3 linked regions of the Homo sapiens genome follow. The protein of the gene in region 3 interacts with the protein of the main gene of each other region in a pairwise test. Each region holds a gene or a part of one and is shown on either strand. Other genes may lie near its edges.

Region 1 (7,315 bases), on a different chromosome or scaffold from region 3:
AGACTACAGATCAGGATGAAGTCTGGGAGGTTTCATGATGAGATGTAGAAAAAGCAGTTACAGAATTAGAATGGATATTTGGAATAGGGCTGCAGGATCTCCTTTGGAACAGACCACGTGGAGTCCTAAATAGCACAGCTATAAGAGTGTGAGTGTGTGTGTGTGTGTGTGTGTGTGTAAATGAATGAATCTTTCAATGAATTAACACTGCTTGGGAGCACAGCCATGCTTATTAAGCAGAGTTAAGGCAGCAGAGCTGGAGATGAGATCAGAGCAGGGACAAAGCCGTTCATAGGAGGCCTTGTGCGACTCTACCCAGCCCACCTTTCTTGCTGATACCTCCCTACCTCCCACCTGAGGAGAACTCTTACCCACGTAATCAGGGTCAATTCGGGGAGAGTAGAGGCCGAACTGGATGAAGATGGGAAGCAGGAATCCAAAGCGCAGCCACTCGATGACATGCAGGGGGGGCCGGCCGGCCGGGGGCAGCAGGTCACAGCCCAGCACCACACTCTCCCCAGCCCGGCCCACCACCGATACCACCTCAGGCTTCCCTCGACCTGCATGATGGGTGGCATGAGGGCACAACGGGGGGCTAGGGTCAGTGCTGGGAGGGGGAGTGCCATCAGTATCTCTGTAGGCACCTTAGGACTTTGGGTGACTGGAGAAACCCCCAGTTCAGCTTCTCCAGAACCAGCCCTATTCCTCCCCTGCCCTCACATGCTCAAAGAGGAACCCTTGAGGAACACCCCCATACCCACCCCAAGGCTAACAGGGCATTCTTGAGCCCAAGAGCTCAGCTTACCGTCAGCCCCCTGGCTGATGACCAGGCTGAGGACGGCCAGGCCGAGGCACCACACCATAGCCCAGCTGGCCTGCTCACCCAGCCCCTCCTATCCACAGGAGCCCAGATGGAGGGGCCAAGGGATGTCCTTCTGATCAGCTCAGGGAACAGGTTTCAGCTCTCACTCTTCTGTACAGTGAGGGCTTGGCTCATGTAACACCCGAGGAAGCTGCTCTCCGGAGAACCACCAGATCTAAATGAAAAGTACAAGGCAACATGCAGAGTTGGCCAATACTGGAGCCCAGAAGAAACCCCACCATTAGAGAAAGGCACTGGGAAGAGAAAGGAGGGAGGAGTGTAGTTAAGTGAGGGGTAGGGGGAAGGGGGGGATCTTGAAGCCCTGGGGAGTAAGAGCAGGGGTAGGAGTACTGGGAGAATGGTGAGTGCTGAATGCAGATACTAGAAAGGTGAGGAAATGGGGGAGGCTGGGAGAGTTGGGAAGGTCTTAGGAAATGTGGAAGGATTCTGGGGATGCCTGCATTCTGAGGGTCTTGAAAAACTAAGCCAGAAGAGAACTGGGGTTCCTCATATGCTTGGAAAAATATTTTTGAAGGAAGTATGGTAGATCAAGACTCTCATGGCCTAGGCTGCTCTCGCTTCTTTCCTTACTCTTGATGCTCACAAGGTATAGCAGCAAGATGGAACCAGTGCTGTCGCCTTCACCCCTCTGTGACAAATAAGGGCCCTGAGGATATCTGCTCAGGGGCAGAGAGCCAGTCAAGGGCAAATCCAGGGCGCTTAAGCCTCAGAAAGTGGTCCCCAGGACACCCCGATACAATCCCTTGTCCCATTTCCCCAGCCTCTATGAAAAACTCTGGAAGCTGAGGACCCGAGGCCTTTCTCCATTCAGTCTCCCTACACTGCTTTGGCAGTGAGTGAGTCAGGCACTTGGGAGAGGAGGAGCTGCCTCCCCCACCTGCCAGTATGGGGGATCCAGGCAGCATCCTCCAGGTCTGGACAGGTCCCGGGGCTGGCAGCTGGCGCCACTTCCTCACGATACTGCCAAGCAGCCCTCCCCCTGCCAGGCACCACCACCCAAGGACCTCACCCAAATCCCTCCCACTCACTCCCCTCCAATATCTTCGGGGTGCCAGGGTTTGTCAAGCTCTTTCTTCCCCAACCCCAGAGGCATGGTCCAAAAAAAAGCCTGTGAGTCCCTGAAGTGTACAAAATTAACCCTGGGGCATGGAGGGTAGGAGCTTCTGACAGCCCCACAGATCCTAGGGCAGTCTCAGAGAGCCAGAGGGTCCATGCCAGGGCCTGGCACTGCCAAGTGGACTCTGCTCTGAGTCCTCCAACCCACTCTTGGCCGCAAAGTTCAGGACAGACTATAAAACATCCTCCACAGAGTCTGATCCTTGCCTCTACTTAATGATCCTGTATGTCTAACTTCTGGCAATTCACTAGCAACCAAGCCCCCTGTTTCCCACTGCCTCCAGGCAGCTCTCCCACACTTCCCTGAAAAACCTTTTTCCAAGTATATAGGAACCCCCTAGTTCTCTCCTGGTTGTTTTCCGAGACTCTGAGTAACTAGGCATCCCTAGAATTCCTCCCAGTCTCTTAATATCTTTCCAACTCCCCCGGCCTCCACTATTTCCTCACCCTTCTAGTCTCCCCACACACCACTCCCTCGTCCTCCCATTACTCCCTTCCCAGTTATCGCTACTACGCACAATCCCCCCACAATTCCAGCTTCTCGCACCTGATCTCCAATTGCAGCAGGTCTCCTGCACTATAAAGAACTCCCTTCTGGTCTCCCCACCCCCCAGCCACTTCTCCCCATCCTCTCCTCCCGATAATTCCCCTCCCTGGGATTCTCCTGCATCAGCCCACAATACAATTCTGATACCCCACCCCCAACAATTCCTTTCTCCCTCGCATTCTCTGGTCCCCTGGAACTCCTCCTTTCTCTTAGAACCCACCAAGAACTCCCCCACATTGCCTCCAGAACTCCTGCAGTTCTCCGGGAACTCCCACCCACCCGCCAAGAATTCCACTTCACTCCCCAGAACTCCCCTAGTTCTACTCCTGCAACGAATTCCACTTCTCTCTAGAACTCCCCGCTTTCTCCTGTCCCCCATAACTCCGCACTACCAGCACCACCACTTCTATACCTCCAGTACGCCCCCTCCCTCACCTGCTCCGCACCGCTCGGCTCCACTCTCGCCGCTACACAATAGGGGGCGGACCCGCCTCCCCGCCTCGGATGCCCCGAGCGCCTCCCGTCGCCCTGGAGACCGCCAATCCCCCTCCCGCGGCGGCCAATTGGAGCCGCCAGAGGCACGGCGAGGCGGGCGGGACCCCTGAGCGGCCTGGGAGTTGTAGTTTCAGGAGGGAAGAGCTCGGCTGCACGTGGGCTCAGGTCGCCCCCTCGTGGACCTCTGCACAGCCAAGCGTGGAAAGGCCGGTGGGCCGCTTCCCGCCGCCAGCAAGAGGGGCAGCAGGGTCCGGCTCGCGCTCCAGGGCTGCGGGAGCTGGCCCCTTGCCAGGCTACTGGTACGCCGTCCTTCTTTCGGAACCTACGGGCGACCCTCTCCGCTCCCCGAACGGGCGCGCCACAGAGGCGGCAGCGAGGGTTGAAATCTGAGCCTGGGGGTAGGAGAACCAGGCGGGGAGCATGACTCCCCGCCCTCCTCCCAGGGGATCCACCCAGGTCCCGGGCTCATCCGATCTCCTCCCCCATCCCCATTTCTACCTCCACCCATTGCTTCTCTAGCAGGACTGGAAATACCTGTCTGCATTGGCGAGCTCCCAAATCTTGCCCAGGCGCCTCCCACCGTGTGCAGCTGAGGAAGGCTGTGCTCTGAGCGTGGGGTTGCCAAGTCAGCTCCCAAGGCAGCTCTGGCACCAACGACCCAGAGAAACAGGCCCAGAGGGGAGAAACGACAGATATCCTGACACGGGAGATTGAAAGGGAGGAATGAAATACAAGATCACTTACTGGACCCATGCAGGGTGCCAGACCCTGGACTAGATGCTTTATAACTCTTGTGTAACCTTCACAGAAACCCTGCGAAGTAAGTAGAGCTCCCTTTGACTAATGAGAAAACTGAGGCTCAGGGAGATGAAGTAACTTGGCCCAAGCTTTCCCAACTAGGTTATGGCAGAGCTGGATTGAGACCCAACCCAAACTTCATCAAACCTACTCCCTTGGAGGCTTCGCCCTCAGACACAAAGATATCTTGCATATCTTGCCCCTCAGAGATTCCACCTCCTCAGCCTGGTGATGCTGTAGGGATGCTGGGTCGGCTTAAGCAACATTGCCTGTCCAGGTCCTTCCCATTCAGTTGGCTCCCTTGGAAGCCTTCCATGAAAGCAACGTGCTGATCTCATCCCAATCCGAAGTACTAAGACTCAAACTGAGTGCACCAGGCATCAGACTCACAGAATCACTGCTGCAGCATCATGAGAGAACCTCCAGGATGGGCCTAAGCACTACTTGGCCCCAGAATCCCTGGCACATCATTTCTCCATGTAGTCATCCAAGCCCCTATCTCATTACATCCTGGGCCAGGAAGCTCAGCACTACTGTTGTACCCATTCCATCCTTAGTAAGCTCTGCCTGCTGGACAGTTCTTCCAGGTGTAAAGGTTTTAGTGCTTTTGGGTGACTGAGATGGAAGGGAAGAGGCAGGAGCAGTGGGCCAGTCTCTCCCACCATCCCTCCTGCAAATAGTCCCAAAGTAGCAGCTTTTCAACAATGCATTTCAACATAATACCCTGATCTATTGATAAGACTATAATGGAAACATGTTAATGAATGCAGCATGGAAGCAAGGCTAGAAGAAATGGTAAAAGAGTGAAGCGGGTTTTTTGTTTGTTTGTTTTTTTGTTTTGACAGAGTCTCACTCTATCGCCCAGGCTGGAGTGCAGTGGTGCAATCTCGGCTCACTGCAACCTCCACCTCCCGGGTTCAAGCGATTCTCCTGCTTCAGCCTCCCAAGCAGCTGTGATTACAGGCGGCCACCACCATGCCTGGCTAATTTTTGTATTTTTAGTAGAGATGGGGTTTCACCATCTTGACCAGGCTGGTCTTGAACTCCTGACCTCATGATCCACCCACCTCGGCCTCCCAAAATGCTGGGATTACAGGTGTGAGCCACTGCCCCCGGCCGAGCCAAGTGTTTTTTAGTCTTTGGATCTTTACCAATCATTGGGAAGGATCTCCCTCCCCGCTGTTAGAATTGGCCACACCTTTGATCTAAACTGCTGTCTCCAGTGGTTTCTTGAGGATAAACTAATCTCATTTAGACATTAAAATAACTTTCTGTTAAATGACATTTAAAATGGTTTTCAATTTTTAAAAGTTTATGATATGGCCTTTTTTTTCTGGAAACTTATTTTGTGACTTTTATTGTTATTGCCATTTTTTGTCTGATTTATATGTATATTGGAGATTTTTTGTTAAGAAAAGGAACCTAGCCCTATAACTTGTTCCCTCACTGTGCCAGGAGTGAAAGCTGATTTAAAAAATAGTCCCTGAGGTTCAAAACAAAAGACTTTCCTCTAGGTTGTCCTTGATTCATAGTCATTACTCTCTGGGAAAGCTTATTCAACCAACGAGGATTCCACCTAACCTAAGTATCAGGCAGCCCCCATATTTTCAAATTGCTGACAAGGATATCAGAAAATATTCTCTCTCTCCCCCTCCTCCTCCTCCTCCTCTTCTTCCTCCTTCTTCTCCTTCTCCTGCTTTCTTCTTTCCTCTTTCCTCCTCCTCCTCCTTCTCCTCCTCCTCCTCTGCTGCTGCTTTTCCTCCTCCTCCTCCTCCTCCTCCTCCTCCTTCTCCTTCTTCTTCTTTTCTCTCTCTGTCTCTCTCTCTGTCTCTCAGAGCTGGGGTATTCTCCTCCTCTTGCCTTTGAACATCAAAACTCCAGGCTCTCCAGACTTGGGACTGTGAGTTATACCATTGGCCTCCCTGGTTGTGAGGCTTTTGGAGTTGGACTGAGCCACACTTTTGCCATCCCAGGGCCTTCTTTGTGCATGTTGTAGGACTTGGCCTCCACCATCATGTAAGCCAATTCCCCTAATAAATCCCATCTCATATTTCTATATCTGTATCTATCTATCTTATTGGTTCTGTCTTCCTGGTGTATACCTAATATTTCAGCAGGCCTTGGGAAGAAAGGACCTGAGCTGCTCCATAGCCCTGCACAAAGAAGATGGTGTGACCTCAGAGATGTCTGCTTGGCATCGTTAAGCACAGGTGTTCCTAATCAGCAAAGTTTCTCATTGTCTATAGATAAGCAGAGAATTACTTGATATCAAATGAACCCTGAAAGGTGGAACACATGGGCTTTTAGTAGTGACCACATTTGATGTGTTAACATTGCTTGTACCAATTAAGCACCACATAACTATCCCATATTCTAGAATAGAAAGGGTGGCTTTAATAATCGATAATAGGGATGTTGTTAATCAGGCATATATTAAGTTATATCTGAGTTAAAAAAGAAAAGAAAAGATTGTCATCCAGGGACTCTGTTGACCACATGCCTGTAAGCAGCAGTCTTATTACCAGATCCGTAAAGAAGTGCGGTTTCTCATATATTGTCATTTAACTTTTTGTGTGCCTATCTTCTATCCCAATGAAACACTTAGCCCCACAAGGGTGTGGATATTGTCCTGTTTGTCTTTGAATTCCTGCTTCAGAAAGGCCCTGCTTACTTTTCCAGCCTGGTTTCTCACTTATCCCTTTATCGCAGTGTGCATGACTTTGCAGGCCTTAGAACTACTGTGCTCTTTCACATACCAGTGTCTTAGCACTTAGCTTCTGTCTCGATAGAATGCCCTTTTCTCCTTTCCAGACTCACTGCTGGCCACAGGTCAAATTTCTGTTGATCTGTTCCCTTCAGGACACATTCCGTGACTTTTCCCACCACGCCCTCACCTTCACCCCAGCCCTTTTCCTACCTTGTTATTGTATCTTTACACACTCCACAAAACATTCCTTGAAGGCAGAGGTGTCTCTTCTGCCTCCCCAGTGCTTGCCAAGTTCCTGGCATATTGCAGAGGTAGCGGCTTGTGCCTCTCTGAGTTTATATTCAACTTTCTTTAAGATCTCATCCTTCCTCTTCCAGAAGCTCGGCCTCTTTTGAGGCCTCAACCCTTCTCTGCTCAGAGATCGGCTGTAAGAAGAAGGAACTTTGCCAACTTCCAGGGAAATCCCTGGGCCTATCATACATTCATTCCTTTATTTATTCATCCTTTTGTTTACTTTCTATGAATTCAATCCTGCAATAACATGAGAAATGAGCTGCCTCTTTATGTGCAAGATGGACTCAAGGTGGCCTTTCCAGTCAGTCCCCATCCCTGCAGTGGTGCCTCCTAGGAAAGATATAAAAGGAATCAAAGGGATTGGGGGCTGCTGGCCTTTTTTGGAAGCAAGACTGCTCAGGGCCTAAGGGAAGCCCAGAGAACCAGCCTCAAGAAGGGACTGCCTTCCAGAGGGACAAGGGTTCAGGCCCTCAGA
Region 2 (7,023 bases), about 100 Mb from region 3:
GTTTCTGAAAGATAATGAAAATAGAAGACACTTTTCACTGAGGGTAAAGCCCTTTTAGCAGCTCTAGATTTAGCCACAGAAAAATCACTCACTTTATTAAAAAAAAAAATAAATGAAAAAAAACAAAACAAAACTCTTCAAGCTGGCATTTGGCAGCAAGACAATGCTGAGAACATTTTCTCAACTCGGCTGGGAAAACCCGGGAAAGAACACGTTGAGGAAAAGAGGGTAACACTCTTCCGATCTGTTGGGACTATGCCAGAGAAAATCAGGCAACAGATTAAAGAGGCTTGTCAGTCACCCCACTGGTTTCAGGGGCACATTACTCACTACCACCTCTATGCAATGAGTCACCCCTTGCAGAACCCGTCACAGCTCAAGTTTAATCAACCTCACAGCAGCGGGAAGGTGCATCACTCTGTCTTCCCATAAAAGATGGGCCACTGCGGCACCAAGGCATAGAGGAAGAGCTACAAGTTACACAGGTGAGAAGAGTATCAGGGACAGTGTCCATGGGAGGGGAGGAAAGAAGATTCCCAGGCAGAGGTATGTGAAGCCCACTGAGCCGTGGGCTCAGCCATGGTGATCTGGTCCCAGGGAAAGAGGTGGTCACTGAGGCATCATGAATTCAAGGAGCACCTTCTGCTGCTACTCCTCATGGTCAGGCTCCTCATCACTGTCCTCCCCCAGAGGAAATTCCTTCGTGGGCTTCTGGGTTGCATACATCCGGGTCTCCATGGGGCAGTCCTGACTCAGAATAGCCTGCAGAGAGAGGCAAGAAGAGAAGCCACTGCACATTATTATCATTTTTTTTTTTTTGAGACGGAGTCTCGCTCTGTTGCCCAGGCTGGAGTGCAGTGGCGCAATCTCGGCTCACTGCAAGCTCCGCCTCCCGGGTTCATGCCGTTCTCCTGCCTCAGCCTCCAGAGTAGCTGGAACTACAGGCGCCCATCACCACGCCAGGCTAATTTTTTGTATTTTTAGCAGAGACGGGGTTTCACCATGTTAGCCAGAATGGTCTCGATCTCCTGACCTCGTGATGCGCCCGCCTCAGCCTCCTAAAGTGCTGGGATTACAGGCGTGAGCCACCGCGCCCGGCCAACCACCGCACATCTTTTTTTTACCAATCTCCTCATTCCGTCCTCCCACTAGTTCTTCCAAGGCTGGCATTGCTAAGTACTCAAGAAACATGCATAGGACCCTCTGCATGTACATGCACCAGCCTCCCGGGGTACCTAGTATATCAACCCTTGTCAGGACAAGTATCTCATTTGCTTTTAACTGAATTTAACAGTGGTAGTGAAAGTTACAGCAGGAAGCCAAATGGAATCACCACCACTCCCTATCACACCTTCATGTCTTCTTTTGTTCCCTTGAGCAGCCTCTGTCGGTATCCCAAACCCATCAGGCCCTCAGGATGTTTGTGCTGCAGTAAGAGGAAAGTGCTTTATTAAAGAAAATCCTATGGTATGGATCTCTTCCCTGGGGTTTTTGTACTTTTAAAAACGTGACCTGCTGACCAACATGGATAAACCCCATCTCTACTAAAAATACAAAAAATTAGCCAGACATGGTGGTACATGCCTGTAATCCCAGCTACTTGGGATGCCAAGGCAGGAGAATCTCTTGAACCCGGGAGGCAGAGGTTGTGGTGAGCCGAGATCACACTATTACACTCCACCCTGGGCAACAAGAGTGAAACTCCATCAAAAAAAAAAAAAAAAAGTGACCTGGTAAGGATAATGTTGCACTAGAGTGAATGAGTGGATGAACGGATGTGCCAATGGAATTCTGCCCACTTATGAGGGAGTTAACTTGGTAACTCACATCTTGCTAGTAACTAGCAAGCTAAGAACAGTAACTACAGGATGTCTTTGATGGTCCTCTGCCCCCATTTCCCTTCTCTACTGAAGACCCTTCCTGATAGCCCCAGAAAGAGGGAAGTGGTTACTTAGAGAAGGGAAATTAAGGAAGTGCACAAAAGAAATATGAAGATGAAAGGGGATTGGGAAACATGGCAAAGCAGAGAGAGTATCAACAGAGCAATAGAGGGAGGAAATAACAGCCCAGGATGAAAGGGAATGAGAGAGATGATGGAAAGAAACAGAAGTGAATTTCTCTTTTAACAGTCGGTGCTCCTTACAAGCTTCTCTTCCTTTGCCGGGGGGCTCCGCAGGTAGTAGCAGAGTGGAGCATAGACGATGTTGATGACCCCAGTGATGACCATGAGCCAGGGAAAACCGATGGCCTTTACAATGGCACCACCGGTGGATGGACCTGGGAGGGATACATCAAAGTCATAAGTGTCTATGGAGCCTCCATATGGAGCATCCTCCACGTAGGACACTATGCTAGGGGCAGTGGGTGACCCAGAGGATGTCTCAGCGTCAAAGATCTCCAGAACCCTAGGAGGATAGCTTCCTGGCTGCACTTCCAGCTGGTAAAGAGTAGACAGGGGAAAGTGGGGCACCAGGTCCTGCCAACATACCTATAGCAAAGCCCATGCAAAAAGCCACATCAGCGATGGCGTAGACACTCCCATACACCGAGGTGTGGCGTAGATCCACCAGGTGCCCCATGATGGGCATCATAGAAGAATCCACCATGCCTGTGGCCAGAGCAAACAGGACACAGTCAGCCCCACCCACAGTTAGTACCACCCCGCCTCTCCTCCTCCATTTAGTCCATTTGCTTTGTCTGCTGTCTTCTGCCTCGGACTAACACCTGTTCCAGGTGGGAATTACGAGCTCATCTCTCCACAACCCTGCCAGCTGCCCTCCTGATCCTTCTGCCTCTGCACCTACCTCCTCTGATGAGAAAAGGGGGAGGAAAGGCATCAGACCCAAAGCCAACATGCAGGGGCTTATTGTTTTCTTTGAGGGCACTTCTTACCTATGGCAAGGCCAAGCCCTGCATTGGGGCCAATGAGACCAAAAATATTGTGAGCCAGAGGAACCTGCATGGGGAAGGAGGAAGAGTCATCAGGACTCCAGATGGGTCAGGTGGGAGCAAGGTTCAAAGAGTTTTCACATGAAATGCATTTATTCAGAGTGCACTATTGGCCACATACATCATCCTCCTGCACTCTCAGACTTTCTCATGGAAAAGAATCTATACCTCCATTTTAAGGATATGAAAACTTGACCAGCGCTGTTGTGTTTATTTATTGCTCTATCCAGAGTTACAGATCTAATGAGTGGCAAGATCAAGTTTGGACCTCAGACTTGGCTCCATTATGCTCTAACGAGGGTCTTCCTCTGTTCCATGGATACTTTCTCCCCTTCCTCTACCCCTCTTCACCTAAACATACACTCCTGGTCTCATTCTTCATGGAATAAAGTTGCCTCTGTTTTCCATTATGGACATCACTGAAAGGTTTCATTTAGACTTCTAACTTGGTAGCTGTTGGAAAAAGAAGATAGAGAAGAGGCCCCAACAACCAGTTAGCTGTAAGCTAGAGGGGGCAGGTGGTGTGGCTTGGGTCCCCTGTCAGGAAGCTTGTGAGACTCATTCCCATTGCCCTCCCAATCCCCCAACAAAAACCCCTTCTTCCCTCTTTTTCAGGTTCCTTACCTCCCTCTCTGGGTACCTGCCATTCAAACCTGCTACCCCAGGACACTCACCCCTTAAGGGTTTAGCATACCGTTTAGATGCTGCTGGCTGATAACAATTTTTAGGGTTCATGCCTCAAGAAATGTTTATAAATTATCAATAGTATTGGCTGAGATTCACTATGGGCTCACCATGTGCCAGACACTGTGGTTTATTTGGATTACCTTGACAACCCTGTGGACACCATCAGAACCCTCTCTACATAGATGAGGATGCTGAGCACACGGAGATGAAGTAACCTGCTCAAAGTCACATGCATAGAAAGTGGCAAAACCTGCCATGGAACCCGGATCCCATGCTCCTGCTCAGGACCTCCAGCTGGTCTTGAGCACAGTTTACAGTGCCTTGTAGCCCTGTTCTTCTCTCCCTCAGGCCTAGGAGGTTTGTGTGTTTCTCATCCCCACTGGGGAGAGGAGGAAATGAAGGCTTTGAGAACTTGAGGGGGATTCTTGGAAATGGAAAAGTCCTTCTTTCTTTCTTCTTCTATCAAGCCTCTGGTGCCAGAGACTGGGACATAGATGATGGTTCCCTGGGGATTTATGAGGCTCTGTCAGGGTGGGATGAGTAAATGAAGTCATAAAACGCACCATTTTGCCATCCCCAGAAATGGATACCAACATGTATCACTTCATATGCCCACATGTACAGCCTCAGACCTCCGGCTCCAGCTGCCCTACAGCCCTCTTCCTCTCCTTTCCCACTTCCCCTCAAAGGAAAGCCACTGCAGCTGGTGGCCTCTTCCCCCGTGCTAAATTCCTGCCTATTCAGAAACAGTCTTTCTGACAGTCCTTGCCAAGCCATCTCTGCTCATCTTAAAGGAAATTAGTCTTTAAATGTCTGTGTCTTTCTCTCTCTCTCTCTCCCTCTCTCTCTCTCTCTCTCTCTCTCTCTGTCTGTCTGTCTCTCGCTCTCTCTCTCCTTCCCCTCCCCCAGGTCTTCTTATACTTACACAGAGCAAGCTGGTACCTACTACCAGCATCCCGATTAGGGAACACAGCCACCTGGAAGAAAAAAGCCATCATCAAACACCACTAGGGGAGAGCTCCCCTCCACCTGTACCCCATCACCGCCATGCTGACCTGTCCCACCAGCCCTAATCCCAGCAACCCCTTAGGACCTGAGGACAGCATCCCTACATGACCAGTTTGTACCCAAATGAGCTCTCTCCCTGCCCTTTCCTTGTCTCCCCTGGCTCCATCCCTTTTTCTATAGAAAGGCAGAGGAGGTGCCGTGGGACACACTCTTCCTTCCCTTACAGGAGGAATCAGCTGACTCAGGAGGCACTTGTTCCTTAGAAGTAGCCCTCAAACTTAACTCATGCTGTTGCCCAGCTCAGACTGCCTCCTACCTGTCCTATTTTATTTGGTCCTTGAGGTCTGTCTCAAAAAACACAGAAAGTACCAAACTTCTTTCCTTCTCTGATGTCCTATGGCAGTGCTTCTAAAATCTTGATGCTAAACTCCAAAGATAAAATTAAAGCTGTCCTTATTGTAGTGAAGGGACAGAATGGAGACTCATAGCTCTTGGCCCCCAACCCTTCCTCCTCAGTGGCCTCTGGGGTGCCTCTATAGAACTCCTTAGGATTCCACAGAACATAATTTGAAAACTACTTTCCCAAAGTACTGCATTTTTCATAGCTGTTCTCTGTTGTGGTTATTTTATCTCCTCAACTGGACAGCAAATGGATGGAAAGTAAGGGGTGCCCCTCATGTATCCACTGCCTCTTCTATAACAATCAGCTCAGAGCTCAGGACAATCCATTCTCCATACCACCCTCACCACTCACTCACTGCCCATCCTCCCAGTGGGAAGTTTTTATCGGTGTGTACTCATCCTAAACTTTCAACCGTATGGAAGCTGTTCATCATTCCAAGATCAGGAACGGGCGCTCTTCCATCTTACATTTCTACTGTTCGTCCCAGATCCCGAGGCTACATACCGACCCATCTTGTTGGCCAACACACCAAAGAGGTTGGTGCCAATGAGGTAGGACACACTGGCAGGCAAGAAAGCTAGACCTGTGGAAGGACACAGATCCTTACCTTAGGACATGTCCAATTTACTCTAAAATGCCTTGTCTCGTACAAGACACTGAAGTCCACCCCTGTAACCTTCCAAGATCCCCAAACCACTTTGTTTTATGATCTGGGGACCTTTGTGCAAACCCACAGTAGTTGCCATAGGACCCCCACACCTCTCCTTTCTTCAGGAGCAAGGCTTTGTTTAGCCTCAGTACTTTTCTTTTTGTTTTCTTTCTTTTTTTGAGACAGGGCCTCACTCTGTCACCCAGGCTGGAGTGCAGTGGTACAATCTCAGCCCACTGCAGCCTCGACCTCCTGGGATCAAGTGATCCTCCCAGCTCAGCCTCCCAAGTGGCTGGGATTACAGATGAACACCACCACACCTAGTTGTTTTTTTTTGTTTTTTTTTTGTTTGTTTGTTTGTTTGTTTGTTTTGTAGAGATGGAGTCTCGTCATGTTGCCCAGGCTGGTCATGAAATCCTGCCTGCCTTGGCCTCCCAAAGTGCTGGGATTACAGATGTGAGCCCCCACACCTGGCCTAGCCTCAGTACATTTAATGTGCTTCCAGCTCCCCACTTAGATTCCTAATGAATGGCCCTGATGAGCCGTTCTCATGTATAAAATACCCTTGATTATCAGCGTGAGAATGTGAGCTTCAGAGGTGGTGTGGTTGGGTGCCACATACCCATACATAATTCCTGGGAAGTGAATTCCTGCCTTGCTACTTACCAGCCCTTCTATTTCTCTGAGAGGGATCTTGGATTAATTACTAAACCTTTCTGAGCCTTGGTTTCCACATCTGGAAAAAGCAAAGCTATGATTATATCATACCGGGTTACAATGTGGAGCAAATTAGGTAATGCATGCAAAAGTATTTTGTAAATTGAAGTCCTGAACACATGGCTTTTTGTGACAGTAGAGGGAAGTGTTCAGGAAACATGGGCTTTGGAGCCACACAAAGCTCCAAATTTTGCATTCAAACCATGGCTTGATGACTTGTTAGCTCTGTGACTTTGGACAATTTACTTAACCTGTCTGAGTCTCTTCCATTCATTCATTCATTCATTCATTCATTTTAACAAACTTTGACCATGTGTCAGGTATTCTGGGGGCTGGGAATACAGCGGTGAATAAGACAAACAAAATTCTAGCCCTCAGCTAGCTTACACTCCAGGGGAGGGAGACATACAATGAACAAGTAAACAAATACACAAAAAAGATAATTTTGAAAAGTGTTGAGTTATGTGCATGAAATTTAATGTGGTGATATAGCAGAGCAACTCAGAAGGGCTATCTGGGATTTCAGGGTTGGGGAAGGCTTCTTTGGGGAAGTGACATTCAAACTGAGACCTTAATAACCAAAAGAGAGCACTTCAAGCAGAAAATAAAA
Region 3 (7,023 bases):
TTTTATCAATTCTAAGTTGCCATCATTTATTGGATACATCCTTACTTTATGAACTGTAAGAAAGAAAAAATATTGCTAATTAAACTATGTATACTACCAACAATAAGATGGATCCTGATATCAGATACGTTAAAATGCATCTGAGAATGCCTAAAATGTGGTATTTGTTATTGAATGATACCCCCCAAAAGAGAGAAGAGAAATAGTTTTTAAATACAAAGACTTCCAGAAAAATCTTCATCTCTAAACAAAAACAATTGTTTTATGATGCAATATATAGCTAAATGGCTTTAAAATCTCTTAGATCATTTGGTTCTATTAAATATATCAGAAAGCTATACAATGACTGTAATATTCTCATTATTTACTTTAATGTTGGAAACTGGGAATAGAATGTTTAAGAGATGATATCATGATACATTTATGCCAGGAATTCGAAGAATATAAAATTCTTGCCATGGTCCTAAAACAAAGAAACTTTGTTTTTAACTGTGGCTTTGGCCCCAAACTCCAGTGCAGAAGTCTAATATAAAAGGTTAAGGTTAGATCACTTAAAAAGCTGCTTTGCCTAGATTATAGGGCTAAGTAAACTTCTAAGAAAAAATTCAAATCTGAAATTGTAACACTCAAATGAGTCAAGGAAAGAAGAGACAAAATCAAAGACAGAGCAAGACAGAGCATATTTATCATAATAATGTCCACTTAGTCTAATTTATACTCCCCCAGGCTTCCCCAAGCTCAGGAAGCAACTCAGGCCATCTGCTACTTGGAACAAGAATGTAAAGAGAGAGAGAAAGCTGGCCTTTTCTAAATAGATGTCCTTAGTTTGTTTCATTATTCCTGCCACATAAAGTAAAGAGAGCAAAAAACAGCCAAACCCATATATGCTTTGGCCATTATTTCCTTTGAAAGTTCCCCCCTCTAGAAAACATGTCTAGTCAGTATCCTCAAATTCGAGCCATATCCCTTCTCTTTGGGTTTTCTGGGAGTAGGGTGAGGTGGAATAATGAGAGAGGTTCTTCCTTTTACTCCTGTCTTACCCTTGGAGATGTCTATAAAATACATATAAATACTTCAGTAAACACAAATTCCATTTTGCTTACATTATGGTAAATTTAGAATAAACTTTTGCATACATCAGAACCACTCATGAAAATTACTAAACACAACTGCCAGGGCTCCCTCTCCAGAGACACTAATAATGTATAACTGGGATATCACCCAGGCATCTATATTTGATGGATACCAAAGATTTAGTACTATTAGTTTAGAAAAAGTAAATTTGAAATTTTAATTCTAGAAAACAAAGAAAAATGAAATATTCTTTTGTTATGCTTCTCAATTAAAGAAGAGTGGGGAACAGAAAGACAGCAAGTACAGAATATACAAATGAATAAGTGAATGAACCTACCCAAGTCCAGCTAGATCTGACACAAGATTTCCCAAAGCAGCAGCTAAAAATTTGAAAAATAAATAATTGTTACATAAAAGAATAATAATTATATCACTATGTAATCAATAAAGCACTGATCTTGGAAGAGTTCTCATATTTCTCAAACAACAGCAACCATATCCAAAGTAACTCATTGGACAGCTCTTACTCTCAAGGTTTTGAAATAGAACACAATTTTGAAATTATGCTATTCTACCTCCATTAAGTAGTAGGTTTTTTTGTTATGGCAGCCAATTTCCATTTTGGTTTCAATATTAATTGTAGAATATTTTGTAGTATCTTTCATATAATATTTAAAGGAATTGGTAAAGTTGCATGTACAGCTATGAAATTCAAGAAAGTCAAGGAGAAAAATATGTTTCTTTCATTAACTCATTTACCTAATGCTTTCTACAATAAATACAACATAGAACTCTTCCCAAATTTTACCTCTGTGAAGAATAGAGTGGTAAATGGGACAGAGAAGACAGATGTTTAATCCTGTATTTCCTTCTTTGATTTTTCTACCCAACTCAAGAAAAAAAAAATTCTACCCAACTCAAAAATAAATAAATAAAAAATAAATAATAGGCTGGGCGTGGTGGCTCACATCTGTAATCCTAGCACTTTGGGAGGCCGAGGCGGGCAGATCACGAGGTCAGGCATTCAAGACCATCCTGGCCAACATGGTGAAACCCCGTCTCTACTAAAAATACAAAAATTAGCCAGGAATGATGGCAGGCGCCAGTAGTCCCAGCTACTCATGAGGCTGAGATAGGAGAATCCCTTGAACCTGGAGGTGGAGGTTGCAGTGAGCTGAGATTGCACCACTGAACTGCAGCCTGGGTGACAGAGTGAGACCCCGTCTCTAAATAAATAAATAAATAAATAAATAAATAAAAGAGACCAAGGGTAGAAATGTTTAGGGGTAACACTGAATTGCCAGAAAATCTTGTCTTAACGAAATCAATATAGCAGAGTATTGTTATCCAATAACTAATAATATAAAGTACCTAAAATTTTCAGAAAAAGTGCTACATGTACAAAACTAAGAATCAGAAGAATAGGATGAAGAAAATTAACAGATATCTCAATGAGTAAACTCATTCAAATAAATTACCCTCCTCTAAACTTAATCTACTGAAATGTTTTATAAGTGTACAATGAAATAATAACATTTACTACTGTTAAATACCTGCCATAGTTGAAATTCCCAAAATAATTCCAATAGACATTTCAATATGGGTTCCCTGAAATATGATAAAAAATTAATCTTAAAAATTAAAGCTGAAGTGACTATAAAAGAATAGCAAAGCATTAATAAAAACAGATACAAGTTAAATCAACATGTTAGTGCTGCAAAATTACATACATCATATATGCACATATAATATAGTAATTCATTAAATTATTAAATATATGCATTCATACAGAAATAACATCAATAACATTTTATTCATTCAAATTAGGCTTCTAAAAATAAAATTAGCAACACATGTAGAAATATAGTTCATCATTAAAAATCTAGAATTTCTATTTTTCTACCACAGAGAAAAATGCTTTAAAGCTCTTTGAAAACAAGACCGACTCACATTGATTTTAAATTCTGAACTATACATCTATACTATTGTTATTTACTCTATCAAAAGATTAAAAGGAGACTAAACCAGTTTCTAGGGAAATTGGGGTTTATAAAATTATCCTTATAACACTTAGCTCTTGAACCATTAAGTAGTGAAACTATACATTCAATTTATAAGCAGCAACGGCATTTAGTACAATAGATCTACACTCAAAACAAAGCCCCATCGTATCGCCACTGAATTTAATGACAGAGTTTAAGACTTTCTATATGTATATCATCATTCCTCTGAAGAAAAGAGGGGCTCATATTTTACTTTCATTTTAAAGAGGAGGAACTGAAGTGAAGACAATTAAACTATTCTAACAGAATAAAGAAGAAATCCTAGGATCTATTGTGCTAATTCAATTCTAATCCCTGAGCAATGCTGCCATTAGAAGACTTAATTTTCAAGAGTTCTCTTGAATACTGATGCTTGAACATTTCTAAAAAATGCTTCAAATCTCAATGATATTTGTGGAGGGAAAAAAACGCCCTGTATTTTACGTAGAAATAATGCATTACTCATCAATTATTTACAAAACTGAAAAGAGGTTTCCTCAAGTTTCTTTCCCCTAGAGCTTTTGGCTGCATCACTTTAAGATATAATTCTTGTCGAATATGGACCCAACAGTCTGATGCACTGAAGTTCAAAAGTCTTTTGTCCTGATGCACAAAGTTCAAATGACAAGGTTGTAAATATACCCCAAGAAACAGATTTCTGAAGAAGAAATAAAGAGGAAGAAAAGGTAAAAACAGGCAGAGAAAAAGAATAAACATATGTATCATCATATCTGAATGCAAAAAAACTGGAGCACCAATATAGAAGAGAGGCACCTGATAACAACAGTCTAATAAATATGGCATCTTTAACAGCAATGAATCGCTGGCAGTGGCCAAAGAAGAATCTCTTGCAATACATACATTTAAAAAATAGTTAAGTGCTTAATCATTTGGTTGAATGTAACACAGCTGAAGGTCCTTCTAACAGCAGGAAAAGCCCCATATAAAGTCAAAGATGGTTTGGGGGCAATGGACTATCCACTTCTTTACTGTGTCCCATAGTTACATCAAATTTTGTGTTAATAGGTGAGGTAGAAATTATAAATAAACCGAATACTAATAGTTGTCTTAAAGTTATACCTGGTTCATTATCCTTAATACAATTAATCTACTCTAGAATTCTAATAAATTCTATCCAATTAAACTGTAAGTAAAGTAACCCAAAACTAACCCTAAAATATAAGTTATAAAAAGCAATCCAATAATATAAAAATATTTTTTAAACTATGAAACAAAAGGCTTAATATGAACACCAACCAATATAAAGGCCAAATCTATTACAAGAGGTTACACACCTCTTTGTTTTTGTTTGAATTTGTTTTTACGACTACAACTAGGGTGGGAAAGTACACCTAACAGGAAGGAGGAAAACATCAAATGTCTATGGTATAAAAAAAAAGAAGAATCAACTATCTCCTCAACTTACTATCTTAAAACAGTCATAGCTGTCCCACAATGAGAGGGGTTGATCAGTATTTTTTTAATTAAAAGATGAAAAACATTCTTAAGATAATAATCACTTATTTCCCCTTTCATAGATTCTACAGTTACATTATTTATATGTTTTAGTCTCAGCATTCTATATAACGAAGCCTCACTGGAAAATTTTATTGTCTCTGAATGAGTTTGCAGCTATCACAGGATAATATTTTTGCCACACCTACTACTCTTAACTTGAAGTCAGTGGCTTAAACATTTATTTCAGTATTATTTAAATAAAAACTGATTTTCTGTGTTCTGGATGTGCTGGGGAAAAAAATAAGAAAAAATAAACAAAATGGCCCATAAGCCCCTGAAACTGGATTTCAATAGAAACAGAATAACAGGTATTACTAATTTGGAGTCAGCCATCTCAGGCCTGGAAAAATAGTGCACTCTTAGTTATACTAACAATGAGGCACAGACCTGGGGAACACCAAATAGTGAACTACAAATTACTACAATAATTTGACTCTAGAATGTGGGTGTTTGGTTTGGTAGCTGATCCCCATCAATCTGGACATAAGGCTAGACTATATAGCAAACAAAACCATTCTTGAATAAACCATGTTTACATAAATTTTATAATCTATACAATGTAAATTACTTTTAAAATTCCTACTTTGAAACCAAATCTTCTATTTATGTCCATTTGTAGTACACGTGATCTCCAAAACACCAAAAAGAAAACCTGCATCTCTCATGTATATTTTCCTCACATTCAACAATCCTAAGGTCATTCCACTTTTTCAGTAGTCTCCTACACTTTAGCTATCATTTACAAAATGTTTTTAAAAGTTAGAGTCAGTGAAACTGACAACAAACTCTCTAAGTCCTAACTGAGAAAAGTTTCTAGTTGTGAAGCACTTCGATTTTCTCAAACAAGTTTAAATAAAGACCCCACCTGGGAACTCATAAACTGGTATTCAAAGTATATGATATTTTTTTCTCCTCCCACTAAATGTACTGAAGATCTATTACCTTCAATCTAATGCTAATATCTGAAAAGAATGACTTCACATAAGGTATTCTAAAAATATGTATTGAAAGTTGATAATTGCCATAATAACTGGACTGTGATCAATCTATTTTACTTGGACAAAATAAGAGGAGTGAATAGTTTTTTGACTGATTATGGCATTTTCATAATATGTATATAAGAATAAAACTGGCCAATTTATGTATCTGTGAATGTGAGAAACTTATTCAACTATTTAGAACCACACTGCCTTCTCGGAAACTACTAAAATCTGAGTTGGCTAGATTATTTAAACAATTAATGTAAATCAAATCTAATTGTAATGAAAACCCCATTATGATAAATTCATAAGCTGTAGCTAACACTTGGTATGTTCTTGAAAACAGAGCACTGGGCAGTTTTTGAAGACTTGCATTTTAATTATGGATCTACTTCTGACTTTAGAATATGAACCTAATATTGGTATCCATTAGCAGGCCTTATATAGTAGTAAGAAAGGTAAGTCAGCCATCTCTGAGCTTAAACAGGTTTAAGGAGCACCCTTACATTAAAATACCACAACAAAGGGGAATTTTTTTTAACACTACAATGGAACAAGGCAAAAGGGAGATACAGTCACTTAATTGAATTGAAACTTTAAACAATGGCTAGACTGAAGGCTAGACTATGTATCAAAACATGCTTTAAAACATTTTCACATTGGAAAATTGAACAAGGAACTAAATCAAATAATTACCTATATATGTGATAATTGCCAACACCATTAAAGAACATCAGAACATTTTACATATTATTTTTCTTTATTAAGAATGTTGAAATTAGAATAGGACAATATAGGCCTTTAATGTTCTGTCTGAATGCTCTACCAAAAGTCTATTTGTCTAAATGCTTTACCTAAAGTCTTAATGATTAATAAATATTAAATATAGCTTAATTAAAATTGAGCTATAGTCTGAGATATAGTAAAAAATATCCTTGTTCATTATGATATTAAAACTTTATAATCACAATAGAAAAATTATTAGGAAAATGTAGACCACATTAATTTATGAACTCAAAATAGAAGCAGTGAGAGAAAGAACTTACAGCAACAATCATAATTGCATTATCCAAAAAGCCAAACCCTATGAAAGGTATCGCATTGTGGATGAATACTGAAAAACATCAAAAACAGAAAAATATATTTTAAGATTTCTATAACTTAGAATGACAAAAACAGATGATATGATCAAAGTATCCTAAACAGACTTGATAATCTCTAGAATTTGATTCTCATTTTCCAGAGCCAATAGATGCTGCTACTGCTATAAGTAGAAACTATATTGGGAAAAAACAAAACAAACCAGAAAAAGTATAAAACATGTAAAAATAACTGTGTTAGACTTTTGTGTTTTCTTACTGGTAACACACACACACACACACACACACACACACACACAAATATATACA

The links. The genes of interacting proteins can lie anywhere in the genome.
Region 1: the proteins of TMEM65 (region 3) and IGSF9 interact in binary tests that used the Homo sapiens proteins (3 or more experiments, as listed by UniProt).
Region 2: the proteins of TMEM65 (region 3) and SLC18A1 interact in binary tests that used the Homo sapiens proteins (3 or more experiments, as listed by UniProt).

The regions. Positions count from the first base shown.
Region 1 is NC_000001.11:159,942,592-159,949,906, forward strand, and holds the start of IGSF9 (protein turtle homolog A isoform a precursor), read right to left. Parts: upstream 3,023-7,315; 5' UTR 2,982-3,022; intron 1,038-2,981; 5' UTR 864-1,037; coding exon 806-863; intron 561-805; coding exon 372-560; intron 1-371. UniProt on the Homo sapiens protein: Functions in dendrite outgrowth and synapse maturation.
Region 2 is NC_000008.11:20,145,115-20,152,137, forward strand, and holds part of SLC18A1 (chromaffin granule amine transporter), read right to left. Parts: intron 5,631-7,023; coding exon 5,552-5,630; intron 4,614-5,551; coding exon 4,562-4,613; intron 2,957-4,561; coding exon 2,893-2,956; intron 2,609-2,892; coding exon 2,489-2,608; intron 2,278-2,488; coding exon 2,144-2,277; intron 763-2,143; coding exon 649-762; 3' UTR 1-648.
Region 3 is NC_000008.11:124,320,694-124,327,716, forward strand, and holds part of TMEM65 (transmembrane protein 65), read right to left. Parts: intron 6,729-7,023; coding exon 6,661-6,728; intron 2,683-6,660; coding exon 2,628-2,682; intron 1,455-2,627; coding exon 1,412-1,454; intron 1-1,411. UniProt on the Homo sapiens protein: Essential for maintaining proper cardiac intercalated disk (ICD) structure and function as well as cardiac conduction velocity in the heart.